Linked DNA regions of Homo sapiens: region 2 is linked to region 1. The links come from fine-mapping of genetic effects on gene expression. Tissue or cell type: prefrontal cortex. Region 1 holds a variant in brackets; the other region holds the start of a gene. All regions are shown on one strand. Distances are between the middles of the regions.

Evidence for each region. PIP is the estimated chance that this variant, and not a neighbour inherited with it, causes the effect. A credible set is the group of variants that fine-mapping cannot tell apart.
Region 2: IQCJ starts here. The variant in region 1 is the best candidate, but not a certain one, in a credible set for the expression of IQCJ in prefrontal cortex (ROSMAP, PIP 0.75).

Annotation. Positions count from the first base shown.
Region 1 is chr3:159,232,370-159,235,194 of GRCh38, forward strand. The region is part of intron 1 of IQCJ-SCHIP1 (IQCJ-SCHIP1 readthrough); the gene reads left to right. All of the region lies in intron 1 of IQCJ (IQ motif containing J), which reads left to right. Among named protein-coding and RNA genes, the nearest start is that of SCHIP1, 39 kb to the right of the region's middle. The variant T/C (reference allele first, on the strand shown) is at 1,538.
Region 2 is chr3:159,067,585-159,070,409 of GRCh38, forward strand. IQCJ (IQ motif containing J) reads left to right here and starts at 1,735. Exons shown (of 4, transcript NM_001042706.3): 1 at 1,735-1,857. The coding sequence starts at 1,849. It overlaps IQCJ-SCHIP1 (IQCJ-SCHIP1 readthrough), which reads left to right and starts at 1,735. Exons shown (of 10, transcript NM_001414413.1): 1 at 1,735-1,857. The coding sequence starts at 1,849.

The DNA of each region.
Region 1 (2,825 bases):
CCTTAATTTCCTTATTTACCCAGTAGTCTCATTCAGGAGCAGGTTGTTCAGTTTCCGTGTAGTGCCGTTTTGAGAGACTTTCTTTTTTTTTTTTTTTTTTTTTTTGAGATGGAGTCTCCCTGTGTCACCCAGGCTGGAGTGCAGTGGTGTGATCTCAGCTCATTGAGTGAGTTTCTTAATCCTGAGTTCTAATTTGATTGCACTGTGGTCTGAGAGACAGTTTGTTATGACTTCTGTTCTTTTGCATTTGCTGAGGAGGGTTTTACTTCCAATTATGTGGTCAATTTTAGAGTAAGTGCTATGTGGTGCTGAGAAGAATGTATATTCTGTTGATTTGGGGTGGAGAGTTCTGTAGATGTCTGTTAGTTCCACTTGGTCCAGAGCTGAGTTCCAGTCCTGAATATCCTTGTTAATTTTCTGTCTTGTTGATCTAATATTGACAGTGGGGTGTTAAAGTCTCCCACTATTGTTGTGTGGGAAAGAATCATTCCTAAAGAGGACTTTAAATGAAAACTTTCAGGTAAAATAGGTGGGGGTTGGCTGAGAGCTGTGTGACAGATCTTCTGGGACAGATAGGACTTAACATCCAGGTATAGAGATTTGTTCCAATATATAATGCTCTCCTAGAGACTGCTCTCCAGATAATTGAGGTAATGCTGCGCTATTTAATGATAATATAGACACTGCAATATATTACTAACCTTTTCTTTCTTTTTTAAAAGACTCTCTTATCGATTTTTTTTGAACCCACATCTGGACTGAGTCATCCCAAGTTTTTGAGTTCATGATCTCATTCTGGGTTTTGATGACACGTTTATGTTCCAAGAGAATTAAGTCGGTTGGGGATGGAAAGAGAGGGCATGTCACACAGAACTTGGTATGAAGTCCTGCCAGGCCCAGGGGCTTAGGCTCTATCTGCTAGGTGAGGGGGGTCAAGAAAGGTTCCAAGGAGTTGACTGTCCTGATGAGTTTGGCATTTCAGGTTGCTCCTTCTGGCAGGCAATAAGTCTTCAAATAAGGAAAGTAGAATAGATGGTGTTCCAGAGGCCATTTGGCAAAACTGGGTAACTAATGGGAAATGGGTTGAGAGTGAGCCAGGGGAGGATACTTAGGTTAACATCCATGTTTTGAAGAGTCTGAGATACATAATAATAAAAATCTGTGTGATAGTTAAAATAACTAATGTCATCGAGCACCTGCTATTTGCCTGGTGCAAGACTGAATTTTTAATCATCAAGCTTTGAAATTTGGTACAATTAGTGTCCCCATTTTACAGATGATAAAACTGAGGCTCAAAGGAGTCACACAGCCCAAGATTACACAGGAATGGAGCAGAGCTGGACACCACAGGAATGACAAGACAAGTAAGACATAATTGCTATCCTTGGTGTGACACTTAAGGAATCTCTCTGTGGATGACCAGCACTTTAGAGTACACAAAACACCTTTAAATATGTTATTTTAGTTAATCCCCACATAGTATTGTATAGGAGGCATTGCCATCATCATCTTACACATGATGAAACTGAGATCTAAA[T/C]GGAAGGAGTTGCTTTCTAAGATCAGACAGTAATTAGATGACGCATCTAATTTAAATGATAAATCCGAGCAGTTTGCAGAACATTACAACTTCTTTACAAATGCCATGAGTGAGATACTGCTGCTACTCACACTGGTGTAAGTCCCAAGTCATTCATGGGAAAAGAGTGCAGATGATACAGTTTAGATTCTGGGATCAGACTGCTTATTATATTGGCACCTCATTTCTGCTATAAGACCTTGGACAAGTTACTTATTCTCCTAGGTATGTTTTCTTATCCAAGAAATGGGAATAATAATGGCATATTTTGCTATTTTTATAAGGCTTCTGTGATAATTTTTAAGAGATAATTCATGCAACATGCCTGGAGCCTAGTAAAATTCAATTAATGTTAGTAGTAATAAAAATAGTTCAAAGAAATGACATAGAATTAGTTGCAGAAGGAAATACTAAAATATATAAAATCACATTTCAAATGAATTTTGAAGAATTTCAGAAGGTATAAGAGAAGCAATCCTGTGGCTAGGGAGTTAGGAATGTTTTTAATCCCGAAGATTGTTTTTGTTTAAGTTAGCAGTAGTGTTTATGAGCAGAAGAGTTAAATTATTGGAGATGGGCCCGGCACGGTGATTCATGCCTGTAATCCCAGCACTTTGGGAGGCCAAGGCAAAAACATTGCTTGAGACCAGGAGATAGAGACCAGCCTGTATAACCCTGTCTCTACAATAATAAAAATAATGTTTTAAATTGTTGAATATGTACTTAAAGAAAAGCAATTAGGCAGCACAATGAAATAGTCCCAGAGAGAAGAATCAAGGCCCTGAACAAGGGTGGTAGTGGAGGGGATAGAAAGGGGGAGATAGATCGGTATGAAGGGCTGCAGGGCATTTTAGGAGCTCTTACCAGCATGCATTTGGATTGCTTCTTCACAACATCACTTAGTAAATACATAAGAAATGCAAACTCACTTTCTAACCCTGCTAAGCAAAAAAATCTAATCTGGATGGTGTTTGCTACACTACAACAAAATGCATTCCAGAATCAGGTATAAACAATTTGGGAGTTACATGTTGTTCTGATTGCCTGCACTTTTTTTTTGTGCTTTGGTGCAAGAAACCCAGAGTTGGTGTATGGATTCACGTATCCACATTTGCTATTCTGTCTGCTTTCTGAGAGGTGTTTATTTGTTGGCTTCTGTGCTTATTTGTACTTGTGTTCTCATCTTGAAGCATGGTCTCTAGGATAATTTTCTCAGAAGGCAGAAATACATGAAATGTAAAAATATCTA
Region 2 (2,825 bases), 160 kb before region 1:
GTGAGAGGGAGGACTTCATCAGAATCGCCTGGAGAGAATTTCAAAACACATGTCCGAACTCTGCTTGCCTCATGCTACCTAGGGTAATCCACAGTGCAAGAGATGGCAGTGAGCATGAATTTTGTAAGTAATTCTGTTGTGTCCATCCCCTGCTGAGTCCCTTGTGGTACTATTTGACAATGGTAAGCCCCTTGAGGGAGTTCTCATCTTAAGGGTCATTGTGTTCTACACAGCATCTGATGTGTAATTCAGTGGATATTTGTTGAACAAATGGATGAAACAAATGGCAGTGGAGAGCTAAGAACAGAATCTAGGCAAACAGGCCTGAGCAGTGGAATGTGAGGGGGACTGGCGGTGCCTCGGTCAATACGTATCAATCGAGCGTGCTTAAAGGTGAGTCTGGCCTTCTGCAGCAGTCTGACCATTGACTCTTTATCAATAAACATAAATACTGTTCTGCCCTTGACCTCAAGAGTTAAAATAATAAATAGCTTAATTGGTCATCATTAATTCCACTTCAAATTTACTATAGGCATGTGTGGCCTTGAACAGAATGACTCCCATGCTCAGCCCAGGCATTTTATCCCCGAACCTCCCAAAGGAGTGTCCTTGGTAAAACAAATAAAATCAGCCTCCCACCTCCTCCCACCCATCAATAGCACGTTTGCTATTGAGTCCAGGCAAATGGCCATTTGCAAGGTTGGATGAGTAGTTAAGCCACACAGGCACAATGTAATATGACAACATTCTTCATGGTAATATTGTCCTCCTCCTCATTACATTTGAATATAGATTGCCACTGTGCAATGCCTTCGACCTCGCTCTCTATTTGTGAGGTTTAGGAGTTCTTCAGACAAGGTGATGTCCACGTGCACTCCTCAGAAATTATTAGCCTATTTGTAAACCTAAACAAAATAACAGCTATTGTCTCTAATAACTTAATTTGCCAAATCTCTTTTCTTCCTATGCTTAATTATGTATAAATTTATAGACTTAAGCCACCTGCCTGCTCAATGCTTGTATATAATCGTACCTCTTAGCTACCACTTAATGTTTCAGGGCTCTTCCTTTATATTCTCTTTGCTTCAAACTGTACATTTAAATATCAGTACTCAGCTCAGCTTCTGAGTATTAAACATTTTTTTTTCTCCACTTCCTTGAAAAGCTGTGAACAAGCCTTTTAGCATTTTATCTGGACCAAACAGTAGTGGTTTTACATGAGAAACGAGAACTCTGCAAGTAAATCTATGTGTTTATATGTCTAAAGTGCATTATAAAAAGAAGCAATAAATCTAGTTTTCTACATAAAAGGAATTAGATTTTCCAGTTTACCTCTGCACTGGGATTAATAAAATGCGCAACAAATAGCTGATGGAATGATCCATTTGAAGTTTGTAAAGGTATCTAGGGAAGCTGGCTGGAGTAGCCTTTTCATTTTTTCAAAAGCAGGATGCCTCTTAATTTTTTGATTCAGTCTTGTTTCTCAATGACTGTTTTAAAATGAGCTGAGAGGCTGTTACCTGCCTGTTTCTGCATGGCTGAGCAAATTCACCCGTAAATCCAAGTTTCTCTTCATTTCCATCACTATACGTCTCCAAATTACAGAGAATTCATTCCTGAGCTGGAGAGGTGCCAGAAGTTTCTCATCTAGCTGTCTGTGGGCTGCCTTTTTCTTTCCCCTCTTTGAGGCTTTCTGATGCCTAGAGTGAGCTCAACTCAAAGGTTTCCAGCCTCACACTCGCCTCACATTCCCCCACAGTCACATTGCGCTCTGTGATTCTGAGGAATACAGTGTGCCAGCATCCGATCCAGTCTCCTTTCACCTGCAGGTGTTCCAGAAACTTCAAAATGCGTCTGGTAATGTATTTGCTTTTCTAAACGTGCCACTTTGATGTGCATTATATGCAGCTGCTTATTATTTTTTAAAAATCTGTCTTCTGAATTAACATGTATGCAAAAAATGTCAAAAAGAGCTTATAGAACAGTGTGGGCTTAATTATTGGTCTAGGTGCGTGTGCATGTGTCCTTGTTAATGTAGGCATGTGTGCATAAATATGTATTATTTATGTATACATGTGTCTGTGCGGACAGATTTCACTAAAGGAATCTCATTGAAAGCAACACTTCCTATGAACATCCAGATTTTCTAGTCAGATCTGTAAATATCTTACACAACAACAGCAAGTAGAGGAAAAATACATTTTTCACACCCATGCAAATGGTATGTTTTAAACACTTATTTAAAAAGCCCTCCTTTCTTGTGTGTGTGTGTGTGTGTGTGTGTGTGTGTGTGTGTGTGTGTGCGTGTGTATGGGGAGGAGGTGTTGATTTTTGAAAATTGGGAGAGAAGAGTTATATTGCTGCTGCACGAGAATTTCTACCCCATGTTACCTGCCTTCTTAAAACTCAGTAAGCACTGAGGGGAAGAGATGTGGTTCTGCTTTGGAGAACCTCAGGGGGACGTTGATCCGCAGTGTTCAGCAGGAATTTTAGGTATTCTAAATACTAGTGCTTGAATAATAAGTAGATGGGGTAGATTTGCTATAGCCAAATCCTTCTATGTTTTCTGGCTTGTAGGAATCACATTCACACTGTACATTTAGGATCTGCATGTGTTTATTGAACTCTAGTAAAGCAGCGTGAGAGTGCAGGCTCATAAATCACATTATTTATTTGCTAGTGTTGGGTGCTAGATTCTAAGATTAAGAGATTACTTAGCAATTAATAATATATTCAGCATCCCTTGTCTCATTGGGTGAGATTTACATCCTTGGGACTTGCTCTTCTAGTTATAAAGATGAATTATTTAAGGTTCATACTTAATT